Linked DNA regions of Homo sapiens: region 2 is linked to region 1. A link means that fine-mapping ties the variant in region 1 to the expression of a gene that starts in the linked region. Tissue or cell type: whole blood. Region 1 holds a variant in brackets; the other region holds the start of a gene. All regions are shown on one strand. Distances are from middle to middle.

The links. PIP is the estimated chance that this variant, and not a neighbour inherited with it, causes the effect.
Region 2: it holds the start of ARHGAP12, and the variant in region 1 is fine-mapped to the expression of ARHGAP12 in whole blood (INTERVAL, PIP 0.98).

Annotation. Positions count from the first base shown.
Region 1 is chr10:32,061,073-32,069,179 of GRCh38, reverse strand. No RefSeq gene overlaps it. Among named protein-coding and RNA genes, the nearest start is that of KIF5B, 8.7 kb to the right of the region's middle. The variant C/AC (reference allele first, on the strand shown) is at 4,870.
Region 2 is chr10:31,925,532-31,933,638 of GRCh38, reverse strand. ARHGAP12 (Rho GTPase activating protein 12) reads left to right here and starts at 4,808. Exons shown (of 20, transcript NM_018287.7): 1 at 4,808-4,956. LOC107984219 (a long non-coding RNA gene) reads right to left here. Exons shown (of 3, transcript XR_001747415.2): 1 at 5,596-8,107; 2 at 4,817-4,977. RefSeq lists a silencer at 4,637-5,136.

The DNA.
Region 1 (8,107 bases):
AGCTACTCAGGAGGCTGAGGCAGAATTGCTCGAACCCGGGAGGCGGAGGTTGCTGTGAGCCGAGATCGCACCACTGCACTCCAGCCTGGGTGACAAGAACAAGACTCCTTCTCAAAAAACAAAAAACAAAAAACAAAATCAAGTCTTCGCAGAAATAGACAATATAAAGGCTTCCTAAGTGTCCTGCAACACTGGTGTTGTAGATGCTGTGCTGTGCCGCCCAAGCGCCCAAATTCCCAATTTATGACCGAGGCAGTGGCGGCTTTCAGTCTCCTTGGGAATTCCCTTCTACAGAAGGGAGCTGCTTCATCTAAAATTATGTCCATTCCCCAGGGACAGCCAGCCTGCGAGGCCTAGCCCCTTGTCCCAGTTAGCACTGCCATCCCTGCTCCAGGGATTCCTCCATGAGATCGGCTGAGGCCTCCGTGCCAACTGCATCACAGTCCAACGTCCCTGCTTAATCCTGCTGTTGACAGCTCTCCCCAGTTAACCTTCTGCAAGCAAATTTCTGCCTGAGACACTTCTCCACATCAAACTCAACCTAAGACACACGGCAAAATTCTTTGATACAATTAAAGATAACCATTTTTGGCCGGCGCAGTGGCTCACGCCTGTAATCCCAGCACTTTGGGAGGCCTGAGGAGGTCAGGTTTGAGACCAGCTTGGTCAACATGGTGAAACCCCATCTCTATTAAAAATACAAAAATTAGCCAGGCATGGTGGCGTGCTCCTGTAATCTCAGCTGCTGGGGAGGCTGAGGCACAAGAATCACTTGAACCCACGAGATGGAGGTTGCAGTGAGCTGAGATCATGCCGCTGCACTCCAGCCTGGGCAACAGTGACACTCCATCTCAAAATAATAATAATAATAATAATAATAATAATAATAATAATAACAATTTTTATGTAATTGTAGATTACTACTCTATTAATTGGGTTTAAGTGAATGCACTGGTTGTGGTAACATTCCTGCCAGTTTTCTTATAAATCTGTCTGCTTAATTCTAGGTGTGTGGACTTGGCTTTACAAATGTTAATTTCTGTAGGCCGGGCACTGTGGCTCATGCCTATAATCCCAGCACTTTGGGAGGCCGAGTTGGGTGGATCATCTGAGGTCAAGTGTTTGAGCTACTCAGGAGGCTGAGGCAGGAGAATCGCTTGAACTCAGGAGGTGGAAGTTGCAGTGAGCCGAGGTCGTGCCACTGCACTCCAGCCTGGGTGACAGAGCAAGATTTTGCCTCAAAAAAAAAAAAAAAAGAAAGAAAGAAAGAAAGAAAGAAAAAGGAGTCTGAAAAAACAGTCTGAAAAAAATGTAAAATGTATACGTCTTGTTTTCTAAAAATAGAATAAATTAGCTTGTCAAATCACAGTAAAAATATGAATAAATAGGAGAGACTCTCCAGTTTATTTCTCAATTATGTCCATTCTCCTTATAATTACTAATTATCAGGTGACTTGCTGAGCAAGAATGAAACCTTGGTCATTGAAGACATGAGGATGCTGGGAGCGGTGGCTCATACCTGTAATCCCCACACTTTGGGAGGCCAAAGAGAGAGGATCACCTGAGCCCAGGAGTTGGAGACCAGCCTGGATGACATAGTGAGACCCTGTCTCTACAAAATATTTTAAAATTAGCTAAGTATGGTGGCACATGCCTGTAGTTCCAGCTACTAGGGAGGCCGAGGCAGGAGGATCACTTGAACCTAGGAGCCTGAGGCTCTAGTGAGCTGTGATTGAGCCACTGCACTTCAGTCTGGGCAACAGAGCAAGACCCTATCTCTAAAAAAAATAAAAAATACAAAAATATATGAGGGAAGCTGCTACACCTGGTCAACCAATGGTACGTTTAACCTAACGTTCTGCATAGAGAGGCAAGTTTTGTTAAACATCTTGGCAGTGATCCCTGATATCAACTTTAAATTGTCAGGAAAGTTTTCCAAAATATCCATTATTTGTGCTCTCATGGCCCTGCTTTTATAGAACCTATCCCTATGGTTTCTACTATCCTAACTCCCCCACTAGAATCCTGGTCTTTTTCAATGGGAACCTGTTCATAATTTTATCCCACCAACTTTTGAGCAGAGCATGTTAATTAATAGGCACTCGTTGAATTCCAATTTCAATCAGTACAGAGGACTTATTAGCATTTGTGAGATCCTGAGCACTGAGCTAAGCATTGTTGAAGGAAACGAGCCATAGTCACTGCCCTCAAGTAACTTATATCCTCGGAGTGACAACATAATTAAACTGGAGACCCAGATACAAACTGTGGCAAATTAAATATGGGAGGTTGAATATTCACATTTCTCTTCAAACCCCCTGAAGCTCCACTAAAATGTTAGTAAAGAAATACCAGGCCGAGCGCGGTGGCTGAAGCCTAGCCTGTAATCCCAGCAATTTGGAAGGCCAAGGGGGGCAGATTATTTGATGCCAGGAGTTCGAGACTAGTCTGGCCAACACAACGAAACCCTTCTCTACTAGAAATACAAAAATTAGCCAGGCGTGGTGGCATATACCTGTAATCCGACGTACTTGGGAGGCTGAAACAGGAGAATTGCTTCAGCCTGGGAGGCAGAGGTTGTGGTGAGCCGAGATCGCTCCACTGCACTCCAGCCTGGGTGACACCATGAGACTCTGTCTCAAAAAAACAAAAAAAACCCAAAAAACCCCAAAAAAACAAAATGCCAAAGCCTAAAGCCACGATATAAAGAAAACTTGAAAGAAGACTATCAGCAAACAGGATTTCAACAAAATGTTGGAAATGTGTAACTACCTAAATAGCCTGGAGAAAGCTAAAAACCTAAGCTTGCAGGCAGAATGTCAATAAGTAAGTTAATTCTCTATATAGAACACCAGACAGCCTCGGGAAATGTAGACACCAGGAGGCTGAGGTGCAGGGTAGAGCTGAAAATAGGAGGGTTTAGTTAAAAATGTATATAAAGATCTGTTGGAATGCAATTTCCCCCCCACCAAAAATGCCAGAAGATTGTCCTCTCCCCCAGCACAACAGAAAGAAGGAAGCTCACTCTCTCGAGAAGTTGAACCAGGGAGGCTGTGGACTCAGGGACATCACACACACAAAGATGGGGTGAGTCGCCTACTGAAAACAGGGAAATAAAACCTACAAACTGAATGTTAAGATTGCGTAACCCCATCACTTCTGAGAAAACTGGCAGCCAGACTTATGTAAACCTGGCAAAATATTAGAGAACTCCTTTCTAGGGAAACCAACCAATTCAAAAGAAATGTTATAAAACCACATTGGGTCTACACCACCGAAAAAGGTCTATAGATTCAATGCAATCCCTATCAAAATACCAATGACATTCTTCATATTAATAGAAATTTTTAAAAATCCAGAAATTCATATGGAACCACAAAAGAATTTAAAGTAATCTTGAGCAAAGAGAACCAAGCTGGAGGCATCACACACACTACCTGACTTCAAAATATACTACAAAGTTATAGTAACCAAAACAGCATGGTCCTGGCATAAAAGCAGACACATAGACTGGTGGAACAGAATAAATAGCTCAGAAATAAATCCACACATTTATAGCCAACTGATTTTCGACAATAGTGCCAAGAACACACAATGGGGAAAAGATAGTCTCTTCAATAAAAGGTATTGGGATAACTGAGTATCCACATGCCAAAGAATGAAATTAGACCCTTATCTCATACTATATTCATAAACCAACTAAAAATGGATTAAAGATTTAAATGTAAGACCCAAAACTATGAAACTACTAGAAGAAAACAGGGGGAAGCTCCCTGACATTGGTAGGGGCAATGTTTTTTTTGGATATGGCCCCAAAAGCATAGGCAACAAAAGCAAAACTATTTTTAGATAAATGGGATTATGTCAAACTAAAAAAGTTCTGTACAGCAAAGAAAACAATTAACAGTGGCTGGGCACGGTGGCCCACACCCATAATCCCAGCACTTTGAGAAGCTGAGGCTGGTGGGTCACCTGAGGTCAGGAGTTCAAGACCAGCCTGGCCAACATGGCGAAACCCCATCTCTACTAAACATAACAAAAATTAGCCAGGCCTGGTGGTGCGCACCTGTAATCCCAGCTACTTGGGAGGCTGAGGCAGGAGAATCACTTGAACCTGTGAGGCAGAGGTTACAGTAAGCCAAGATCATTCCACTGCACTCCAGCCTGGGTGATGGAGTGAGACTTTGTCTCAAAATAAAAATAAAAATAAAATAAAAAAGACATTTAGAATTTTCCTAATGAAATGGCTAGTTCCTGCCCAATCACACCTTGATGAAACCCATCGATCTCTAAACCCTACCAACATGCACAAGGTTTTCCAACATGTTTTAGTTTCTCACTCAAGTTGTTAGAATATCAACGCCCACCACTCATGTGAGGAAATCCTCTGACATGAGTGACAGATTCCAGAGAAAATTTGGGAAACAAAAGCTAAATAAAAAATAAAACATGCCAGGGGTGGTGGCTGATGCCTGGAATCCCAGCACTTTGGTAGGCTGAGGTGGGTGGATCGCCTGAGGTCGGCAGTTTGAGACCAGCCTCACCAACATGGAGAAACCCCATCTCTACTAAAAATACAAAATTAGCTGAGCGTGGTGGCACATGACTGTAATCCTAGCTACTTGGGAGGCTGAGGCAAGAGAATCGCTTGAACACGGGAGGCAGCGGTTGCGGTGAACTGAGATCGCACCATTGCACTCCAGCCTGGGTAATAAGAGCAAAACTCCGTCTCAAAAAAGATATATATATTATCTGAATAATAAGAGAAGATATTGGTCTGTGAATAGAAACATTTCATGTAAAACATCCATTTGGAGAATTAAAATCCAGAGAGTTTTACACACACACACACACACACACACACACACC[C/AC]CCCATAGGGTGGGATCAGCACATCGAAGACATTTTTTTGTTTGTTTCAGACAGGATCTTTCTCTGTTGCCCAGGCTGGAGTGCAGTCGTGCAATCACAGCTCACTGTAGTCTTAACCTCCCCAGGCTCAGGCGATTCTCCCATCTCAGCCCTCCAAGTAGGTAGGACTACAGGTGCATACCACCACGCCCAGCTAGTTTTTTTGTATTTTTTGTAGAGATGGGATCTTGCTATGTTGCCCAGGCTGGTCTTGAACTCCTGAGCTGAAGTGATCCTCCTGCCTTGGCCTGTCAAAGTTGTGGGATTACAGTTGTGAGCCATCATGCCCAGTCCATCCAAGAGATATTATCCTCCTAATTACACACACACACACACACACACACACACACACACACATCGCCAATAGAAAACAGTTGAAAATAAAGTTAAGAGAATATCTCCAAAAGGAGAACAAGAAAACAAAGAAAAGGAAAATAGGAAAGAAAAGAGGAATATAGACAAAAAGAGACTAAAAGCTGCCTGGAAGAAAAATTCAGATCACATACAAATGATTAGGACTCAGAATCAGACTTAACAAAAGGAGCAATACCTTCAAAATATCAAGAGTAGCTTTATACTGCTGGTGGCTATTTGGAATGTGTTAAGAGTAAACTGGTAGAAAAAGTTAGGCAATTTTTAAATCCAGAAAAACACAAAAAGTTGTACAAGGTAGGCAATGTAATTATAGTGCACTACATGGCTAAGCTGGGAATAATATTATGTAGCATGTAAATGCTGTATATTAATTTAACTAAAAATAGTGATAGAAATATATATTGAGAAGATAAAGAGAAGAAAATACGTTGATTCAGATGGAGGCTAGTGTAAAGGAGCTATAACCTCATTTAATAATAATAATTCATAAGTCAAGAAGCAGCAATAAAATCATGTTATTTAGAAACATGGAGATAAATACTAGAAGAAATTGCTAAAAGATTTAAAGTAGTTGCCCTGGAGAACAGAAATGGAGGTTGGATTGAACAGAACCAGAACTTCTATTTTTCAGGGTTGTAGTGTAGTTTTCACTTTTTAAACTATGAGTGTGTTTCTTTGATAAAATAGAAAAAATATATAGGTTCTAAAGAGTTAAATGAAGCTGGATGTGATAGTGTGTGCCTGTAATCCTATCTACTTGGGAGGCTAAGACAGGAGGATCGCTTGAGCCCAGGAATTTGAGACCAGTCTGGGCAACACAAAGAGACCTCGTCTCAAAAAATTAAAAATAAGGCCAGGCGCAGTGGCTCACACCTGTAATCCCAGCATTTTGGGAGGCTGAGGTGGGTGGATCACCTGAGGTCAGGAGTTTGAGACCAGCCTGACCAACATGGTGAAATCTCGTCTCTGCTAAAAATACAAAAATTAGCCGGGTGTGGTGGCAGGCGCCTGCAGTCCCAGCTACTCAGGAGGCTGAGACAGGAGAATCACCTGAACTTAGGAGTGGAGGTTGCAGTGAGCCAAGATAGCGCCACAGCACTCCGGCCTGGACGACAGAACAAGACTCCATCTCAAAAAAAAAAATTAAAAATAAATAAATAAATAAATAAATTATGGTATTAAATACCATGTAGGAGTTTTCTCTCTGACCTCTGAAATAATTCTGTGTGGTACAAACCACTTGCAGAAGGTGGGACCTGAGGAAAGACGGATGGGATTTGGACAAGCACAAAGGAGAGGGACATACACAGTGAGATCAGATTGGCTTTGAAATTAGCAAATTATAATGAAGGACAGTGAAAAAGACCAGTTTCCAGGAGTTAAGAATGTAAGTCGTGGAGCAGTGGAAAACCCTAGTTATGTAATGGGGAGTCAGTGCTAGAAGAAGGCCTTGGAATCCAAGCAGAGGAATTTGAATTAGTTTGAGTAGGAAAAAGGGGCGTTGTTGTAGGTTCTTGAGTAATGAAATGATTTAATAAAGGTAATGCTTTTGGAGACTTAATCTGAAAATTTCATGCAAAACAGTGGATATGGGAGGAATTGTTTAGTCTTTTTCACTATCGTATTCCTATAGTCTATCTCAGCACCTGGACCATAGTGGGAACTCAACCTATAGTTACTGAATGTTCGAATGGGAAAGAGGCTGAGACCTCCCGTAGTAACCTCGGCCTGAAGTAGTGAAGCCTTGGACCAGGATGGGGTCCTGGAGCTAGAAAAGAGCAGGTGTGTCTTATTCAGATTTGAAAAAGAAATGCTATAATTTTCTATTCCAAAAGCCCATTTCTGGTCATTTCAACTGGAAATAGTAAACAAATTTTCTTACAGTAATAATGTTAAAAATAAACATACTTTTATAAATGTACTTATAATAAATAAGTACATTTATTTTTAAACAGTGGTGATGTTCTTAGATTCCCTCCAACCATTTAATTTATAATTAATTTAGAATATAGCCCAATCTAATACATTTATTACACTTTTAGAGGATTATTTCCAGGAGAAACATTTTAAGTTCCAAATTTTAGGTTATCATTCGAGGGATCTACTGCTATGTAACAAATGATTCAAAATGGAGCAGCTGAAAACAATAACCATTTTATTATATCTCATGATTTTATGAGTCAGGAATTAGGACAGGCCTTAGCTGGGTGATTCTTCTACTCCAAGCGTGTTAATTGAAATTACTCACTGGTATTCAACTGGTGGGTGTGCTGGCATGGATAGTCCAAGATGGCTTCACTCACAAGTCAGGTCTCTGGATGGAAGGCTGGGATCAGCTGAGACCATTGCTTAGTGCCCACATATGGCCTCCCCAGCATGGTAGTCTCAGGGTGGTTGGTCATCCTAGATGGCAGTTCAGAGCTCCTAGAGTATTCCAAGAAACTAAGGTGGAAGCTGCAAGCCTTCTTCTCACCTAGTCTCAGATAGCATGTGGTGTCATACTTCTGCCACATATATTGGTTGCAAGTGAGTCATAGGGCCAACCATGCAAGATTTAAGGAGAGAGGCTGCACAAATCTGTGAACCCAGGGAGGCACAGTTCATCAGAGACTAACTTCCATAGTGGAGTTTTTTTTTTTTTTTTTTTTGAGACGGAATTTCACTCTTCTTGGCCAGGCTGGAGTGCAATGGCAGAATCTCAGCTCACTGCAACCTCTGCCTCCTGGGTTCAAGCGATTCTCCTGACTCAGCTTCCCGAGTAGCTGGGATTACAGGCACCCACCACCATGCCCGGCTAATTTTTGTATTTTTAGTAGAGATGGGG
Region 2 (8,107 bases), 140 kb after region 1:
TTAAACAGGAGTCCTCATAACCAGGAAGAAAAACGTATTCATCTTAACCAAGTCTATAGCAAGGAGGGAGAAAGTTCCCCTAAACAGAAGATTTCATAGCTGGTAGCGGGGAAGGATGCCTCCCAACCAATTCCCAAATAAAACTGAACTAAACCAAAAGAAAAAATATGAGTTCAAGCCAACAGAGACTCACCATGGGGAAAAGAGGTGGCTCGTAGAAGTTTGGGGGCTCAAGAGGCCTGAATTTGGGTACTTCATGCCACATTCCAGGTGCTAATTCTCCAAGGTGAGCCTGCTTTGGATCCCACTTCTGACTTCAAGTATGTAGAAATCAAAATAAAATATAGAGATGAATCTCTAAACATCTTATTTGGGAATCACAGAATTGGAATTTGGGATATATATATATATATATATATATATATATATATGCACATACAGGTGGTCTTTGGTATGCTCAAAGAACAAAAAGAAGGTTGGTAGTTTATTAGAAGGAGAAATGTTATGTTTTGTTTTAAAAGAAAGCTCACTGCTACTGGAGAAGCTTTGGGGAGCTGGCAAACTCTGATTGCTGAAGACAGCAGTAGGTAACACTAGTCTATGAGTCACAGTAGGTCATTTCAGCAGCTACTAGGTAAAACTATTCTTATGGTTACAGCAGGCTGTTTTAGCAGCTGGGCTTGCAGAAAATTTAATTTTTGGAGCTGGTGCTATGTGCCCTGAGTGATTTTTCCCCCCACTCCTGGACTCTTTGAGTTAGTTGGGTATGACAAGAATGTCCTAATTTGTATAATCAACTATTACAAGTACTAATTATTATTATTATTTTTTGAAACAGGGTCTCCCTCTGTTACCCAGGCTGGAGTGCAATGGCACCATCTTGGCTCACTGCAACCTCTGCCTCTCGGGTTCAAGCAATCCTCCTGCCTCAGCCTCCTGAGTAGCTGGGACTACAGGCGTGCACCACTATGTCCAGCTAATTTTTTGTATTTTTAGTACAGATGGGGTTTCACCATGTTGGCCAGACTGGTCTTGAACTCCTGACCTCAGGTGACCCACTTGCCTAAGCCTCCCAAAGTGCTGGGATTGCAGGTGTGAGTCACCACACCTGACCACAAGTACTAATATTTGTCTTTAATAATAGTTAAAACTGATCATATGAATTTATATAGTGAAAGCAGTGAGATTTCACAAGAAAATATTAATAAATCTCCTAAAACCCTTAAAGATGTGTTATGCAAATCTGACTGCTATTGTACTCATTATTCTCTTTGAGATTTCTGGAAATTAAGCCCACAAATAAATATAATCAAATACTGAAACATATCAGACAAAATCATTTACAGGGCATCTGTGTAACCCATGGAAACAAGAAGCAGTTGATATTACAAAATGGGTGAGTGAACAGATACACGAGAAACATATGCCTTTAGCGTTTTTCCCAAAATATATTTTGTTGACCTTAATTAACAGACAAATGATCCATGAAATTCTAATTTTATTGTTTAAAATGGAGGATCCAATTTGTTAAAACTTGTTCAAGGAAGGCTCTACTAAACTTGAAGAAAAATAGAGTACTTCTGAAAATTTATATACATTTGATAAAATGTATACTAAGCCTCAAAATAAATGTACCTGGATTTTAAATTATTACGGTAAGAAACAGACATCATTCAATCTGAACAAAAACTCTGAGGTTTTCAAAAGTTTGCCTATGAGCACTAGCTTACCTGATTTTATTTATTTATTTATTTATTTATTTATTTGAGACATGGTCTCACTCTGTTACTCAGGCTGGAGTGCAGTGTCACAATCTTGACTAACTGCAACCTCCACCTCCTGGGTTGAAGTGATCCTCCTACTTCAGCCTCTGGAGTAGCTGAGACCACAGGCACACACCACCATGCCTGGCTATTTTTTTTTTTTTGTATTTTCATTAGAGATGGGGTCTTGCCATGTTGCCCAGGTTGGTCTTGAATTCCTGAGCTCAAGCAATCTGCCCGCCTCAGCCTCCCAAAGTGCTGGGATTATAGGCATGAGCCACTGCACCCAGCCTCCTTGATATGTTTATTTTACTCAGGTAAACTTTTATAAAACAGAAGAAGCCTGAATGTTTTAATAACAACAACAACAACAAAAAGATGCCAGAAAAATTTTAAACATTTTCACTATTTGAATAGATAAAACATTCTGAAATTTTGAATATCAAAAAGTTTAAATATGAATACAATGAAGTCTATTTCTTATGCTTTCCATCTACTGTGTTCTCATACCTCATGTTACTTTGTCCTAGTTTAATGCATATACAATTTAATACAATATTCTGTACCGTATTTCTGTGTTTTTCACTTAACAAAAAAATCTTGGAGATCTTAATGTTAAAACAAAGAACTTTCTGTTTTTTTGATTAACAGCTGCACAATGTTCAAACATATGGCTCTATCATAATTTAACTAGTATCCTGTTGATAGATACTTAGCTTGTTTCCAATCTTTTGCTATTCTCAACAATAAGAAACACCTTGTTATTTCTTATGTGTGGAAACATCTGTGGCATAAATCCCTGGAAATGAAATTCAAGGCTCCGAGTATATATGCATTTGTAATTTTAATACATACTGCCAAATTCCTGTTTCTTTATAGCCCAGCCAAAGTAGTGATGCCAGATATAATTTTGTTTTTTCATTTAAAAATATATAATGAAAAGTAGGTTACTTATTAAAGAACTAGGAAGAAAGTAGGACAAGTTTATGCAAAGTACAGACTACATTTTCACCTAAAAATACATTTAACAGGAATCTATTGTGCATCTACCGTATGCCAAGTGCTTTTAGGCACTTGGGATATACACACAAACAAATCAGACTCAAATCTCTGCCTGTGTGTGGAGCTTATATTTCAGTTCTACATTTTGGAACTCTCTGCTACTTCATAAGAAGCCAGTTAAATGTCAAAATCCTGAAAATGATCTGTTGAAATCCTGAGCACAGGCGCCAGACATATGCTACAAGTGTTATTTAAAAACTAACTAGAGGCAGTGTTACATATGATCATAGCTCTCCATCAGGTTCTTTTAAAACAACACACTAGCGAGAAAGCTCTTTTTATCCGCCTCCATCTGCTGTTGGTGGTGATCAGCATACTGTGGGCATTGTGGTATCATCCGAGATTAGGCTGTGAAATAGGAAGTGGGGTTACAGGCAGATCCGCAAGTGTATGCAAACTGTTGAGTTCTATCTCTTGCTAAAACCAAGGGTGCCCAATTCAGGTTTGGAGAGTAGGGAAAGTAAGGTTATCAGCGCATTCCTATCAGGGTCGTTTTCTTTTTTGCACTGCTCTTGTTCTGGTTTTATAAGGAGAACACAAGCAGAGTCTATGGAAAATAGTTGCCAAAGCATACAGGAAATACTCCTTATACTGAACAAATGCAAGAAAACAGAACGGGTTAGAAACCGAGGGAGACAAAAAGGCAGTGGGTGCCAAGGACTGTGAAAAGCAAATGCAACGATAGAGACAGCACAGTCTCAGGCTTATTTTTCAAAAATTCTCATTGTAAGCCTCTTTCCTTTCTAAATGGAGACTATCTTAACACTTTAGCTCGCATTAGACTTAATTTAATAAGAAGGTTGTAAACCACAGCTGTTAAAGTCTTGCCACTGCCCTACCGGATTCTTCGCATCCTGTAAGGCACAATTCGGAGTTCAGCTGGTTGATAAGGAAGCCAGGCATTGTGGCATCTTCAAGTACGAAGTGAAGCACAGGAAAGAGCCAACTCCGGAGAGTAGCTCTTCATTGCTTGAATCATACATATGCTTGTTTTTTCCCCCCTCTCCTTTCTGGTCTCTATTATTAACAAATATTTCATCCTGGCACAACAGGCACAATCAACAACTGGTTAAGGAATGAGTAGTTACTGAAGTCCCAACGCCTCTCAGTTATTTTTCTCACACTCACTGTATTCTAGACCTAGAAGCCAGCTCTCATTTGAAAGCTGAGGTTCAGAAGGGTGAAGTGCCAATAAATGGCAGAAGCCAGGTCTCTTTCCTGATTCCCATTCCAGCTGAGCTCCTCCTGCCACTGGATCACCATCAAAGACCTGCCAAAGCTGTTACTTCCGGGTTCGGTGCTGCCACAGTGCAAACGGGGATGACTTTGGACAATGACCCTGTGGCCCCCGCAGGGCTCGCACCCTCAGGCCCGTGGAAGGCTAAATGCTGACGGACTGGTTCTGCCCTGGAGCGGCTCTCCGCGTCCCAGGGGTCTCCTCAGTCCCGAGTGTGCACAGCGGGTCCTGCCACGTACCCTGGCGACCCCAGCAATGGACTCAGTGCCCCGGGTCCCTTTCCGTCTCCCTCAGGCGGCGTGCAGCACTTTTTCGGGTGTCCCAGTGGAATTTCCGGGCCCGTGAACGACTGACCCACGCCCGGCCGCAGCTCCAGGGGCCGACGAAGGGAGCGCTAGGGCCCACGGCAGGGCCGTCTTTGCCCGGGCTCCATTCCTGCCACCCTGGCGCTATGTCCGCCCTTCCCTGGTTTTCCCTACGAGCGTTTTTTTAACGCTTCCCACTCCTTGTTTACAAAGTGCTGAGCCCCCTTGACCGCAGGCTCCCGCGCCGGCCCGAGTTCCCACACCGTACGCTGGCTGCCCCCTATTCGGATCCCCGCCGGGCGCCGCACCCCCTAGCCACCCCAGACCGTCCCGGAGACCCGCGCCCGCCCAGCTCGCCCGGGCCATCACGTGAGCCTCCCGCCCCGCCCCCGCGCGTCACGTGAGCCCCGCCCCCGCGCCGGCGCGCTCCGACGTGCCCTGTAACTTACCCTCCCTCAGAGGCCAGCCTGCGGGGACGGGCCGGCCGCGGCCGTAGCCGTGTGAACGCTCTTCGGGCTCGCGTCGTCGACCCGCAGCCGCGGGGCGGACTAAGAAGGGAGCCGCCTGCTGCGAGGCCGCCGGGCTCCCGGTGAGGTGCAGGGCGCGGGTCCTGGCGGACGGAGGGCAGGTTGGCGAGGCGCTGCACAAAGGCGCGCCGGGGCCGGGCTGTGCCCGCCGAGGGCGGTGGAGTCGGGGGGAGGCGTGTGCGGGAGGCGCGGCGGCGGCGGCGGCGGCGCCGCGGAGGTGCGCGCAAAGGGAGGTCGGGCGCGCAGCGAGGGGCTCTGGGCGCGGGGGTTAGGCGCCGAGGGGGAGGGGGCCGGCGCAGCCTATTGGCTGACGTGGGCGAGAGGGTTTAAATGGCCCGAAGTTGTGGCTTCTCTGCCCCCTGGGTTTCCTGACTTCCTGTGTGAGGGCAGCGCCCGCCCGCCCCGCCCCCAGGGAGGAGAGTGTGAGGGTGCGCGGGTGTGTGTGTGAGTGCGGGAGAGTGCGCGCGTGTGTGCACAAGGCGGGTGTGTGCGTGTCTATGTGCAAAAGGCGGGTGTGTGCGCGCGCGTGTGTCTGCAAAAGGCGGGTGTGTGTGTGTGTGTGTGTGTGTGCGCAAAAGGCCGGCCCGGCCCCTCCCGCGCCCTGGGCCCACTCCCTAATCGCGGTGGGGCTTGCAGGCCTCCACCCACCCGGGGAGCCCACCCGGGGAATCCACCTGGGGCGTCCCTCGAGGACTGTTGACCTTAAACCGGACACTTTCTTCTTTGCGGTCTTTCCCGGTGCCCTGCCCCTGCTGGATGGACGTGCATTCGCTCCCCTCCAGCTTATCTGGGCGGAATCTCCTCAAAGTCCTTGAATTGAAAAATCCTCTTTACCAGCGTGCAGCCCGCCTCCCATCTCAGGGGAGCTGGTTGTCTTCTCAGAACGGCTGTCCTTTACGCGTTGCTATCTTAAGTGACTGCAGACCCTTTGAGAAGAAATGGCCACACGGTCTTCGTTAGAGAAAAAGGCACGCCCTTCAGCTTTCGAGGCGTGTGATGTTTTCCTTTTGACTGCAGCTGCAGTTTTGTAAATGTATTTTCAAAGGCTAAAGCACGACGTTGAAAGTACACCTTTATCGAAAGTTTTAATGTCATCCCAAGTGGAGTGTTTGTTGTGGATAGAGGCTTTTAGCACTCTAATAACACGATTGGTTGTGGCTGGCTTTTGGGTTAATCATGACATTGAGAAGTAGATTTTATCGACTATTTAGGCATGCGTTCCTAAAGGGAGGTGGTGGAGGAAGGAAGGCTCACTCGGGTTCTGATTCAGGTTCTGCCACCCGACTTCTAGAGGTTAGACCTTGGGAGACTCCGGGTGTTTCAATGGAAGTGTTAAAAATAAGTATCTAGCCCCTAGCCACGCCTCTTTCATACTTAAAAGTCGGGAACGATGGCCTAGATGTGTGTGTACTTGCCCATATCGCCTTTTCTTTATCTGTAGGAGGGTGTTTTACAGAATCGGTCATCTTCCTCTACCTCCTCTGGTCTGAATAGGCATTTTGGCTATTTTTATTTTGCCTTGGAAACGTTTCAGAGCTGGGTTTTGAGAGCCCAAAGCAGGCAGTGAAAGCGTGACCCCCACCCATGCCACCTGACGAGCCAGACCGTCTGCGCACATATGTGCGACCCCTGGTTGCATGCGGCTCCACTGTTCTAAAAGTGTTTCTCTGTGGGGGAAAAAGAAACCCCAGAAGTGTAATATAATGTGTGTATGTATATTTATGCGCCAATATTTGTTGATAGATTTCTGTTCGTACTTCATCAAGCTGGAGAAGACTGATGACTCATTGATTGTTAAGATAATGCCGTCTGTATAGTTAGTTATATATATATTAGTTGTTCATATATAATTATCAATACATTGCATCTCTTTCGGTTTTATATTTGCTAATACCAGTTGTTTCGAGGTGCAAATGAAAATAGATTAAGTGCTGTAGAAAAACAGCATGTTACTTGTAGTTAATCATTTGACTTTTCTTTAATTAGAAAGAATCTGCTCAGTGGTTTTTTAGTAGGCTGATAGAAAGTGAACTTTACAAATTTTTAAGTACTCTACGTAAGTGATATTACTGAAAATAATACGGGTGATTAAAATTTTTAAATGGAGTAAAAACTAAATAGTGGTGATCTGTTTAACCATTAAACAGTAGTACTAATATTTTACTTACCTGAGAAAATGGGCATCACAGTTTTACAATAAATCATGGGAGAGAAAAGTGAAATTAAACTTTTGTCCTGTATTTAACAATTTTGGCTAGAATTGCAAATATGCACTATTTTGTAGTATGAATCAGATGTGAAAGGTGTCGTAGTACGACATAGCATCACTGTACTTCAAATCGGGCTTTTCAGATTACCTCTTTTGAGGAACCTATTGGGCCACTATCCTTGTGGTTTTTTTTTTTTTTCTTCAGTTAGCTGGCCCCGGCTCATTGGTATATGGCTTTGCTGTGATTCAGCCATTTCCCTATTACTTTCATTGACTTCATGGACTTAATGAATATTCTGCAGTTTCGTTTTGTAATTGATTAGCTCTTTAATTGAACTGAACTGCCAAATGGTGTAGTCTCTAAGCCTCCTTCCCCTGTTGATAATCTAGTGCTTCTCAAATTTTAACGTGCATAGGAATCACCTGCACTTCTAATATCCACTTGGTCATATGGATGCTGTTCTGCCAGACCACAGACCACTGCTGTCCAATAGAAATGTAATGCCTATATAAATTACTTGTGCTTAAAGTTTCTAGTATTCACATTATAAAAAGTAAGCACGTGGAAAAAAAGTGAAATAAATGAATATATTTTACTTAGTATATTCACAATATCATTTTAACATGTAATAGGAAAATTATTAATGAGATATTTTATGTTCTTTACATTGGACCAGGTTTTTTGAAATATCAAGTGTGTTTTACACTTAGAGCATTTCTCAATTTGCATTAGGCACATTTGACTAGTGACTGCTGTATCGAACAACAGTTTTGGAGTCTAAAAGTGTAGACCAATGTTACTCTTAGTGTATTTTCAGATTGGCCTCATCAGCAATCCTTGAGAATGTAAATTTTAGGGCCCCACCTCATACCGGTTGTTGTTAGAATATCTAGGGCTAGAGCCTGTAATCTGTGGTTTGAAAACGCTCTGGGATATGGCTATACAATGTATATGTGGTATTCTGGATGGGACCCTGGAACAGAAAAAGGACATTAGGAGAATA